Regions from separate parts of the Homo sapiens genome. Here all the other regions are linked to region 1. Evidence: fine-mapped QTL for protein levels in blood plasma. A gene starts in region 1. Each other region holds a variant in brackets. All regions are shown on one strand. Distances are between the middles of the regions.

Evidence for each region. PIP is the posterior inclusion probability: the model's chance that the variant is causal. Protein levels are from antibody-based Olink assays in UK Biobank. Linkage for the fine-mapping came from a reference panel and not from the study's own genotypes, which makes the PIPs less certain.
Region 2: its variant is fine-mapped to the plasma level of the IL2RA protein (UK Biobank, PIP above 0.99).
Region 3: its variant is fine-mapped to the plasma level of the IL2RA protein (UK Biobank, PIP above 0.99). The variant lies in the coding sequence of IL2RA. If it changes the protein, the assay may bind it differently, which can mimic a change of level.

What each region holds. Positions count from the first base shown.
Region 1 is chr10:6,060,066-6,064,291 of GRCh38, reverse strand. IL2RA (interleukin 2 receptor subunit alpha) reads left to right here and starts at 1,925. Exons shown (of 8, transcript NM_000417.3): 1 at 1,925-2,204. The coding sequence starts at 2,141. RefSeq lists a cis regulatory region at 1,542-2,172 and an enhancer at 2,165-2,214.
Region 2 is chr10:6,036,319-6,040,318 of GRCh38, reverse strand. All of the region lies in intron 1 of IL2RA (interleukin 2 receptor subunit alpha), which reads left to right. It overlaps IL2RA-AS1 (IL2RA antisense RNA 1), which reads right to left. Exons shown (of 2, transcript XR_001747349.2): 2 at 3,897-4,000. Among named protein-coding and RNA genes, the nearest start is that of IL2RA-AS1, 2.9 kb to the right of the region's middle. RefSeq lists a silencer at 1,755-1,814. The variant A/G (reference allele first, on the strand shown) is at 2,938.
Region 3 is chr10:6,022,421-6,026,420 of GRCh38, reverse strand. It overlaps IL2RA (interleukin 2 receptor subunit alpha), which reads left to right. Exons shown (of 8, transcript NM_000417.3): 2 at 396-587; 3 at 2,067-2,177. Among named protein-coding and RNA genes, the nearest start is that of IL2RA-AS1, 11 kb to the left of the region's middle. The variant C/T (reference allele first, on the strand shown) is at 2,082.

The sequences.
Region 1 (4,226 bases):
CGACAGAGCGTTCATCCGTAAGGTGAACCAGAAAAGCCAGTTCAATGACTTGTTTAACCATGGTCCATCTCAGAACCAAGAGTTGGGCCTCTTATTTACCAGAAAAATTGTGGGGGCTTTGTGATATGGCTTTAAAAAAATCTTGTAATTGCCAGGCGTGGTGGCTCACACCTGTAATCCCAGCACTTTGGGAGGCCGAGGTGGGTGAATCGCCTAAGGTCAGGAGTTCGAGACCAGCCTGACCAACATGGTGAAACTCCGTCTCTACTAAAAATACAAAAACTAGCTGGATGTGGTGACGCGTGCCTGTAATCCTAGCTACTCAGGAGGCTGACGCAGGAGAATCACTTGAACCTGGGAGGCAGAGGTTGCAGTGAGCCAAGATTGTGCCATTGCGCTCCAAAAAAAAAAAAAAAAAGACATTAACATAAATTTAAATATTTTATAATGACAATCCACATTAACTACTTAAAGCATAAGCTATTTTCCAGGAGAGGCAGCAAGTGCATTCTACTCCCATGCCCAAGAAGAAAGGAGCGTGACTTTGGTGGGAGTACTAGGAGTTTCTACTGGAGCACTTGCCCGCAGAGTGAGAAACGTTCCTAGAGAGGAAGTTATACCTGCTGTGGAATTTAAGAGAATCTTGTCATATTTTGACAAGTTTTTTGAGATGGAAGTCTCACTCTGTCGCCCAGGCTGGAGTGCAGTGGCGCAATCTCAGCTCACTGCAGCCTGCACCTCCTCGGTTCCAGCTATTCTCTTGTCTCAGCCTCCTGAGTAACTGGGATTACAGGCGCCCGCCACTACGCCTGGCTAATTTTTGTATTTTTAGTAGAAATGGGGTTTTACCATGTTGGCCAGACTGGTCTCAAACTCCCGACCTCAGGTGATCTGCCTGCCTCAGCCTCCCAAAGTGCTGGAATTACAGGCGTGTGCCACTGCGCCTGGCTAATTTTTTTTTTTTTTTTTTTTTTTTTTTTTTTTTAGTAGAGACGGTGGTTTCACCATGTCATCCAGGCTGGTCTCAAACTCCTGACCTCAGGTGATCCACCCACCTTGGTCTACCAAAGTGCTCGGATTACAGGCATGAGCCACCAGGCCCAGTCAACGTGATGTGTTTTGGAACCCTGAATTCCTTGGCTTGCCCGGAGGGTTTTCTTTTTGTTAATATCTTTGCTTGCTTTCTAGTATTTAAAAAATTGTGTTTTGCTCTAACTATGCAATGGCTTTAAGTCTTAGACAAATTTCCAGGGAGCAAAACACACTCAACCATTTCATAATAATCAGAAGAGAGCTCTGATCAATAAATAAGCAAGACTGAATTTTACAAAATAATCCAAAGTTTAAAACCAAAGCCCACTTTTTGCATGATCCTTTAAGAGAAAGAAATCTGGAAGCAAAACACCTTATAAAATGACAATGCACTTTCAGGAGCCCAGGGCACTGTGGTGAAATGATGATGGCTAGTACAGGTTATAAGCCTTGGGGAATTATTTATGAATTCTCAGGATCCTTCAGTTCGCCGCATCCTTCTCCATTATTTGAATATTGGAGGCTGCCTGACCAGAATCTTGTCAGGACTTTGCTCCTTCATCCCAGGTGGTCCCGGCTGACTCCTGAGGACGTTACAGCCCTGAGGGGAGGACTCAGCTTATGAAGTGCTGGGTGAGACCACTGCCAAGAAGTGCTTGCTCACCCTACCTTCAACGGCAGGGGAATCTCCCTCTCCTTTTATGGGCGTAGCTGAAGAAAGGATTCATAAATGAAGTTCAATCCTTCTCATCAACCCCAGCCCACACCTCCAGCAATTGAACTTGAAAAAAAAAACCTGGTTTGAAAAATTACCGCAAACTATATTGTCATCAAAAAAAAAAAAAAAAAAAAACACTTCCTATATTTGAGATGAGAGAAGAGAGTGCTAGGCAGTTTCCTGGCTGAACACGCCAGCCCAATACTTAAAGAGAGCAACTCCTGACTCCGATAGAGACTGGATGGACCCACAAGGGTGACAGCCCAGGCGGACCGATCTTCCCATCCCACATCCTCCGGCGCGATGCCAAAAAGAGGCTGACGGCAACTGGGCCTTCTGCAGAGAAAGACCTCCGCTTCACTGCCCCGGCTGGTCCCAAGGGTCAGGAAGATGGATTCATACCTGCTGATGTGGGGACTGCTCACGTTCATCATGGTGCCTGGCTGCCAGGCAGGTAAGGGCCTGTGGGTGCCCCCGGAATTCCGGGAAGGCTGATGGGCATCCCTCTTCCCAGCCACAGAACCAGAGGGAGTCCCCAGGTAGATGGTTCCAAGAAGGGAGTTGAATCTTGGGTTCCACCTCTTGCCTGTGACCCACGGGGACCCCAGTTTATGCCTCACTGTTCCTTGGTCTGTCAAGAGAGCCTGAAATAGCATTAGGTTCTCCTGTCCTTCTCAGTCCTTGACAATTAATTCTGGGAAGAATAGTGTGGCATGATATTTGGGATATTTGGATGTTAACAGGGTCCCGATGAGCAGGTTTCTCAAGAAATTATCTTTTATTCTTCAATGAATTTCCTTTTATTCTCTGCACTCCCACCCCCCAACTAAGAAGCTATCAGGAAGCTCTTTAAGTTCAGGTTAATTTGCTGGAGACATGAGTACTCATATATCAAACACTGGGAGAATTTAAGATCTCAGAAAAGTTTAGCTTCAAGGATGTATACACTGCTTTTACGTCTTAGGAAATAACACCTAGGAATTTCCTTACAAGTGCAACTTTACAGAAATTTTTAAAAATATGCATACTCACTTTTAGAACATTACTACTTCTCATAATCCTATGTATATACATGATATGTATATGTATACGTGTTTATATATGCAAATTTTAAATTTCATTCCTTGTTTCAAATGGATTTTCTCGAAGATTTTTTTTTTTTGACACTGTCTCTGTCAGCCAGACTGGAGTGCAGTGGCGCGATATTGGCTTACTGCAACCTTCGCCTCCCAGGCTTAGCGATCCTCCCACCTCAGCCTCCTGAGTAGCTGGGACTACAGGCATACGCCACCACACCTGGTTAATTTATTTTTTTGTAGAGATGGGGTTTTTGCCATGTTGCCCAAGCTGGTCTTGAACTCCTGGGCTCAAGTGATCCACTCACCCTGGCCTCCCATACTGCTGGTACTACAGGCATGAACCACCGTGCCTGGCCAATATTTTTTTTTAAAGAAATAAAAAACCACCAACTTCTACCTCAAACCACTCTTCCTAATTGAGTGTGAATTTTCTAATAATGTCTTCCCTTTGCTTACTCAGGAAGACAGATAAGAAAGTTTATAGTGTTTTTTGAAAGTCTATAATGGCAACAAGTAGAATGCTAACTGGCTGTAGAAAGAATTTATTAAGAAATGAAACATAATGATGCATTTCAGGAGTCTGCTTGCTTGTTTAGGGGAAGTGCCCAGTCATGCTGGGCTGTGTACTGGCCCAGATGTAGGAGTGTCTTTAAAGAGGGCATTTTATTTACTTATTACATTTTTATTTATTTTTTTTTTACTTTTTGAGACAGAGTCTCACTCTGTTGCCCAGGCTGGAGTGCAGTGGCGTGATCTCAGTCCACTGCAACCTCCACCTCATGGGCTCAAGTAATTCTCGTGCCTCAGACTCCTGAGTAGCTAGGTTTACAGGTGCGTGCACCACCACGACCAGCTAATTTTTGTATTTTTAGTAGAGATGGGGTTTCACCATATTGGTCAGGCTGGTCTCAAACTCCTGACCTTGTGGTCCACCAGCCATGGCCTCCCAAAGTGCTGGGATTACAGGTGTGAGCCATCGCGCCTGACCTATGTGTTTTATTTTAATAGGTTTTGGAGGACAGGTGGTGTTTGGTTACATGAATAAGTTCTTTAGTGGTGATTTGTAAGATTTTGGTGCACCCATCACCTGAGCATGTATGCTGTACCCAATGCGTTGTAAGATTTTGGTGCACCCATCACCTGAGCATGTATGCTGTACCCAGTGCGTAGTCTCTTTTCCCTCACCCACCTCGCACCCTTTCCCCTGAGTCCTCAGAGTCCATCGTGCCGTTCTTATAAAGAGGGCATACTTTTAGGAAGGTTTTTCAATGTGATTTCTACATCCACAGGGTCTTTGCTAACTCAGTCTAAGCCAAGAACAGGAAAATCTTGACAATTAATCATGCTCTGCCTCTGGAAGACACATTTCAAGTAAACTCGTGTTATTTCTAGCTATT
Region 2 (4,000 bases), 24 kb after region 1:
AGAATATGAATTCAAAAGAAACTCTATTTCCTCGTTGTGACACAATCAAGCTTTAAGCAATGAACGCTTTAATTATTGTTTTTCAGCTTAGAAAGTAACTATATATTTTATCATTGGGTTCTAAAAACAACACCGCTCAAGAGGTCATTGTAGCAACAATCAAAATTTGTGGAGCATTTTACAGATTTCAATGTCACTTATGTTATTTCAACTGATCCTCATATTTCCATCCTTCATACCCTCACGATTCATGCTTCAGCAAAACATTCTACCTGTAGTCTCTTGTATCTTCCATATGATGATGCTGTTTTACACTTTTACACATTCTCTGCCAGAATGGCCTGACGTGCCTAACCTTCCAGTTGAACTCCCACCCACCTTTCAGGCACCTTATAGTTAAGAGCAGCCTTCATTCTGTTGCCTGGCTCATGGGCAGGGGCAGGATTCCCAGCAAGGGGTACTATGTCAAGAGGCCTAAAAGGACATATCAGCATGGTAAAAGGAAATGGCTTGGGGTGTATGAGAAGCTCCTATGGTTACATGATTGGGAGGAATTCTTTTCATTTCGTGTTACAGACGGAGCATCTGAAATGAGAAGGGACCACAGTGAGCCAGTGAGTGAAAGAGGAGGAAGATTCTGACACCCAGAGCTTTACCTTCAACATTTCCTTCTGTTTATTCCTTATCTAGACTTCCATTTTCCTACCCCATAGATACCCACTCTTTGCCCCTAACTTGCCTTCAACTCCTCTACTGCCTTGTAAATGTCCCATGTGTGCTTGAAAAAAGAGTGGGCTCTGCTATTGTTGGAATCAAATTTGTTAATTGTGGTTATCACATTTGATTGTTCTTACTGATTTTCTGTCTGTCCTATCCATCATAAAGGAAGACACTGTTAAAATTTCTCATTATGATAGTAGATTTCTAAATTTATCCTTGTTTTGTCAATATTTGCTTTGTGTATTTTGAAGTTATGTTATTGGGTGCATAGAAGTACGTAAGTGTTATGTTTTCCTGATTCTTGATTTGTATATTTTGAAGTGATGTTTTTGAGTGCATACACATATAGCATTTTTATGTTTTCCTGGTGAATTGAATCTTTAGCAATACGTACTGACTTCTGTATTTCTATTAATGCTTCTGCCTTGAAGTCTGATGTTAATATAACTCCTTGGATTCAATTGTCCATTCTTTTAGTTTCAAACTTTTGGAGCATTTATGCTTTAAGCATGTCTCTTATAAACATCATATAACTGCATATTTTTAAAAATATATGCAGTCCAACATTCTGTAACTGCAGGGTTAATCTATCCACATTGATAATTATTACTGATATAGTTTGATGAATTTCCACTGTCTTATTTTGTTCTTTATTTTTTACCTTCTCTTTCTATGCATTTCCCCCTTCTTTTGATTTAAGTAAGTTTTTATCCTATTTTATTTTCTTCCAATAGCTTGTAAGTTATTCACTTTACTCTGTCATTTTAGATGTAATTTTTAACATCTTAACATGAATCCAGACTTTACAAAGCCTAGATTTAACCAATATCATAGCCTTCCTCTCAAATAATAAATAACCTTAGAACAAATTGCCTCCACAAACCTTTTCTACACAGTTCCCTCCTCTTCCTCCTTGCTTCTTTGTGCGCATTTATGTTTGCTATTTGAAAGAATTTCCTGAAAGTAAAAGTGAGATTTTTTAGAAGGCTGACATGAGGGCAGCAATAGTAGACTTTCACGTGACTCCTGTCCCACCACCTTGAGCTGTGTGGTTTAGCCAACTTACTTAATCTCTCTGAACCTCAATCTCTTGCTTTCTAAAGTGGGGATGACAGTATCTACCTTCCAGAGCCATGGTGAGCATTGAAGGTAATATATGCAAAGAAGCAGCACATAGGCAGGGCTCAGACATCATAGTTATTATTATATAGATAACCCCAAATGGAGGGCCTGGGCCCTCTGACTTCTTCAAAGATAATAATCTGAACTAAACCACAACATCACACAAACACCTCCCAGCACCCAGATAGTTTAGACATAGCTCCACCTCTTTGTAAGAGATAACCTTCAACAGATAGGTGAAAAGCACGCTCCTTCCTGAAGATTATGATTCTGGGTGTTGGAAAAGCACTGAACTAGGAGTCAGGGAACCTGGTGATCTGTTGTAATCCAAGGCTTGCCACAAACTTGTGGAATGACCACAGGCCCAGTGTTCTTATCTATAAAATGTAGAGGTTGGCCTAAATGATCTTTGAGCTCTCTTCTAGTTCTCATATTCTATGATACCATTAAAAGGGATGTTCTACATCCCTTTTGCACCCAAACCACTTACTTTCTATACGGCCTAAACTTCTGGTTTGGGTTTCCCAAGGAAGCGAGAGACAACCTTCAATATTAGGCATATCTTTGGAGTTCTTATTAAACAGTAAACCTCACCTCACTATCAAAGATAGCCTCTGGCTCCAGCGTCCTCTTTCCAGTCTCCCACAGAGATTTCCTCTGGGAGTCAACGAGCTTAAGGTGAAATTTGGCTAGGGGTCTGGGAGGAATTCTTTTCATTTCATATTACAGACAGAGCATTTGAAATGAGAAGGGGCCACAGGGGGGCAGTGAGCGGAACAAGAGGAAGATTCGGGTCTCTGACACCCAGAATCTATCTGATTCTGACACAGAAGATGAACCGCGTTAGAGCAAGAACCAGATCCCTCTTTACCCAGTGGCCCAAGCTCTTGATGCGTACCTGTGTCCCTTGTAAAGCTCAGTGAAATCATCACCTAGACATTTCCTGTGCTCCGTGCGTTATTCTAATCTTCACTGGGTACAAGTAGAGCTTAAAGTTCTGATATATGGACAGGAAAGAGAAGAGGGATGAAGCCTTTATCCAGGGCTGGCTGGGCTAAGAGTAAAACAACTTCACCTGGATTCACCCAAGGGGCA[A/G]AGAATCTTATCTCAGACTCGGTCCACATCTTTATCAGCCCCCTTTTCCCTTTATCTTTCATGTTGCTCACATGGGCTCCAGGGGCCAGATGAGTTTTCTCTTACTTTGAACATCAGAGAAAAAAAATAACGACAAAAAGTTACTCAACCGACAAACGTTTCTCACCCACACACCTTTCCTCCAGTCAATGACGTTTCCACTGCACCCTGTTAGACGCTGAGTGAGGAAGCATCTGGGCACAAACCGCTGTGGATGCAGATTGAGCAGCACTCACTGTGCACTGGAGGGATGGGAGTCCTGTCCTCACCCAGGGGGCAGATGGAGAGGGGGCAGAGAGAGCAGCCGGGGCTTCACTCCCTGGAAACTCTCATACTCCAAGTGCGGCCTGGGGCTCTGCAGCCCCAGCATCATGTAGGAGCTTGTTAGAAATAGCCTCAATGTCCACACCTGCCCTGACAAATCCCAGTCTGCAAGATCCCGGGGGCTCTGCACACACGCTGCTGCGAACAACCTCAGCATCCGTCCTGCCGGCTCTAGAGCAGCCAACCGGGATATCCTTCTTCTTCAGCAGTGGTGTCCGCTCTCTAAAATGACTGTCCCCCACATCTCTTTCCAGGGTTGGTATTTCTGGTTAACTCAAGGGACACAAAAATAGCTCAGGGAAAAATTAATTTTCATTCTACTCCAATTCTAATAATGAAGTGGTAAAAATTAAAGGGACAGCTTTCAGATTATGGGAGTGCAGCTGCGGGTATGTGGCAAAATCGAAGAAAGAGGGCTCATAATTCCACGTCAGGGAAGAGCCGCTGGCCTGCCCAGGCTGCTGTTTATCTTTACTGTGAATGGGGCCTCTTTTTTGTTTGTTTGTTTTGTTTTGTTTTCACTTAACCTCAGTGGCAAGAAAAATGGGGCCTCTTGCCAGGAGGAGCAGAGAGTGACGCGGAAGGCAAAGACCACCTCATTTCACCAAGTTCCTCGTCTTTTATTTGAAATCCAAGACATAGAAGCTGCACATTTGTCCTTCTGGGAAGAGTGACGAGTGACTGAGAGTGGAGTCGAACA
Region 3 (4,000 bases), 38 kb after region 1:
ATCCTTAAAAGTATCTTGCACAGACATATTTTGCCCCTCAATTAAATGTACGTAACTTTGCTTCTTCCTTTCTTCACATTCCTTGACCCTCCTCTCTCCATACTTGCTTGACATGAGGCATATTCGGAATAAAACCTTGTTAATTTCTACTCATCTAGTTTGAAATACATTGTGCTTTGGAGAGGAGCTTGGTTGTAGTTAATTTTTGAGCCAGCTCTGATACAAAGCTTTCTAAAGAACAATGGTAGCAGCCTTAGTTGCTTTCTCACAAAAAGTAGGGCATACCATCTTTTAAATAAAGTGAAGAAATATGTGATTAAGTCATTATAGGATTAAATATGTGAGTACTTGCCTGGGGCCTCTTGAGTTCCTAATAGGCTTCTTTTGCTTTGCAGAGCTCTGTGACGATGACCCGCCAGAGATCCCACACGCCACATTCAAAGCCATGGCCTACAAGGAAGGAACCATGTTGAACTGTGAATGCAAGAGAGGTTTCCGCAGAATAAAAAGCGGGTCACTCTATATGCTCTGTACAGGAAACTCTAGCCACTCGTCCTGGGACAACCAATGTCAATGCACAAGCTCTGGTAAGTGTCCCTTCTGTGACTACCAAGAACAAAAGAACTGCAGCAAAGAGTGAGACAGAGCCCAGCTTTTGTTCACTCAGCCCTATAGACACAAATGGGCCAGTCCAGTCTACAGGATAACTAATTTTAGTGGTTCCTGAAAAGTCATTCACTAAACACAATTTTTTTTTTTTTTGGAGACAGACTCTCACTCTGTTGCCTAGGCTGGAGTGCAATGGCACGCGATCTCGGCTCACTGCAACTTCCGCCTCCTGGCTTCAAGTGATTCTCCTGCCTCAGCCTCCTGAGTAGCTGGGATTACAGGCACCCTCCACCATGCCTGGCTAATTTTTGCATTTTTAGTAGAGATGGGGTTTCACCATGTTGGCCAGGCTGGTCTCAAACTCCTGACCTTGAGTAATCTGCCCATCTCAGCCACCCAAAATGCTGGGATTACAGGCATGAGTCACAGTGCCCGGCCACACAATTTTATTTTTATTTTTGAGACAGTCTCGCTCTGTTGCCCAGGCTGGGGTGCGGTGGTACAATCTCAGATCACTGCAACCTCCACCTCCTGGGTTCAAGTGAATCTTGTGCCACAGCTGCCCAAGTAGCTGGGACTACAGGTGTGCACCACCATGCCTGGCTAATTTTTTTATTTTTAGCAAAGATGGGGTTTCGCCATGTTGGCCAGGCTGGTCTCGAACTCCTGGCCTCAAGTGATTCTCCTGCCTGGGCCTTATAGGCGCACACCACCATGCCTGGCTAATATTTTGTATTTTTTGTTAGTGATGGGGTTTCCCCATGTTGTCCAGGCTGGTCTTAAACTCCTGGGCTCAAGCAGTCCTCCTGCCTCAGCCTCCCAATGTGCTGGAATTATAGGTGTGAGCCACCACACCTGACCTAGACACCCTCTTTTATCCTGAGCTGGAATACTGATCACCCCCCTCACTGGGGCACTCAGACTCAACTCCTTTGCCAAACTCTTCACAATAGAGAGGGCTGTTCTAGAAGTTTCCTTGTCATTGTGTTAAGATGGCGTCTCTAACTTCAAGCATTCTGAACAGCCTTAGGGAGCAAAGGATCAGTGTGTTGTGGAGTGAGACCACTCCTGCTGCTGTCAAACAACACAGAGACAATTGACAGCAAGCAAGGAGTCCCTTTTGGTGAGAGACACACACATGCACACATAACATACATGACATACACAGACACGTAACATACATGGCATACACAGACACGTAACATACATGACATGCACAGACACGTATACACACGCTCAAAAACATGTCGTGGGCATTGCCATATGCACTTGAATACCCAGAGGCCGGTGCTGGGAGGGCATACTCTGGTTTCGTATTTGTAAGCTCAGCAGCCAGACACCACCAGACACATCGTGGGCCCTGGACAGGTGTGCTTCTCAAGTGAATGAATACATGAACAGTGTTTTCTATGAAGCATTTGTGAAATTATCTGCATCATTCCATCTATATTTTCTAGCCACTCGGAACACAA[C/T]GAAACAAGTGACACCTCAACCTGAAGAACAGAAAGAAAGGAAAACCACAGAAATGCAAAGTCCAATGCAGCCAGTGGACCAAGCGAGCCTTCCAGGTGAGAGATGAATCTGTCCTCCAGCTAACTCCTGCTAGCGCACCCTTCTCCTGCAGGCAGATGATGTGTACCCAAAGGAAGAAGGTCTGCCCTGCCTTCTATAAACACATGCATGTGGCTCCGTCCTCCCAAGACATCATTGCAGACAAGAATTAGTGCAGAGTTGCTCAGAGGCTGTTTGCTCAGCAACTAAAGCCAATCTGACGGCAGCCAATCCAGGTCTGGGCTTACTCCCTGGTTTGGTAACTGGCCAAATAGAATTCAACCCAAATTCAACTCAACTTAAAAGCGTCTGTTGGGTCTGTGTGCCAGGCCCTGCTGATAGAAGACACAAACAAGAGTGTGACAACGATCCCTGCCCTCAAGGAAACGCTCTGCGTCTTCCCCTTAAGCACAAGACAACGCACCGCAAAAAAATTACTTGCTTCCCAGTATTTCTTCCAGGGCAAGGTTGTAAAATGTGCATGCCACACTTGTGAGTCTCAAAAGCTCCAGATGCGTGTGTCCTGGCCAGCAGTCTGTGCATGAGTGGGCACTGTGGCTGTCCCTTGTCTGCCCTCTGCTTTCCCACGACTGAATTGGGATTCAGTTATGGTGTCAAGAAAATGGGCTGGGCGCAGTGGCTCACGCCTGTAATCCCAGCACTGTGGGAGTCTGAGGCAGGCAGATCACTTGAGGTCAGGAGTTCGAGACCAGCCTGGCCAACATGGTGAAACCTTGTCTCTACAATCATACAAAAATTAAGCTGGGCATGGTGGTGGATGCCTGTAGTCCCAGCTACTCAGGAGGCCAAGGCATGAGAATTGCTTGAAATCAGGAGGTGGAGGTTGCAGTGAGCAGAGATTGCATCACTGCACTCCAGCCTGAGTGACAGAGGAAGACTCTGTCCCCCCTCAAAAAAACAAAACAAAAAAGAAAAAAAACCCACAGAACCTGCTAGGAAGAATTGAGCTTTCTAAGGTCAGGCTAGCCTTAGGAGACTTCAGAGCCCTTTGCTGATTTTACAACCTTACAAAGAACTGTATCAGATACCATCCCATTTGAGCCTGGCTATACAATGAGTCAGGACCAGGAAGGGTTACTTCAACTTACTGAAGAAACTGAGATGCACAAAAGATAAAAAGATTTGGTTAAGCTCACATAGTAGGGCTGGAATCAGACCTCAGGTCTCCCAGATTAGATGAGGAAACTTTCTGCTGATTACTTATTTTAAAAGAGTTTGAATTTACTTACAGCTTCCATTATTTTATTTTTTAAAACAGACTAATCTAGGGGCACAGTTGCAACATGATGCTCTTACTCCTTCCCCTTCCGACTTTGTCCTGGAATGGTGTTTCCAAGCACATTTGTTTGTTTTGTTCTACTTCCCCCATATCACCCTGCACAGTTATTGGAAGGCTTCAAAGAGGCCAATGCTTGTTGTCCTTTCTCGAAGGCTGGCTCTGCCTGAGGGATGTTTCAAAGATTGTCTCAGTTTGGGTGTTTTCATTGGAAAGAAGCAAACCCAATTCAAACATGTTCAGACAGTTACGAATTGTACTGGCTGTCAAACAACCTTTTATCCTGAGACCAAAACACAAGTTCAGTCGTGATGTTCAAGGTGCCACATGGCAGGAGCCAGCCTGGGACAGGGCCACCCAGCTTCCTGCTGGGGAAGAGGCTCTGGAGGATATTTACAGAGGCTCTGTTGGGTATGCAGGGTTGGGGAGAGTCTGGAAGTTCAGAGCACGTGCGCAGTTTCACAGGCTGGGGTTAGAGGGCACATACAATTCCATATGTCCAGGTTGGGGGCTGTGGGTGGGGAATTCAGAGATTTAATCAGA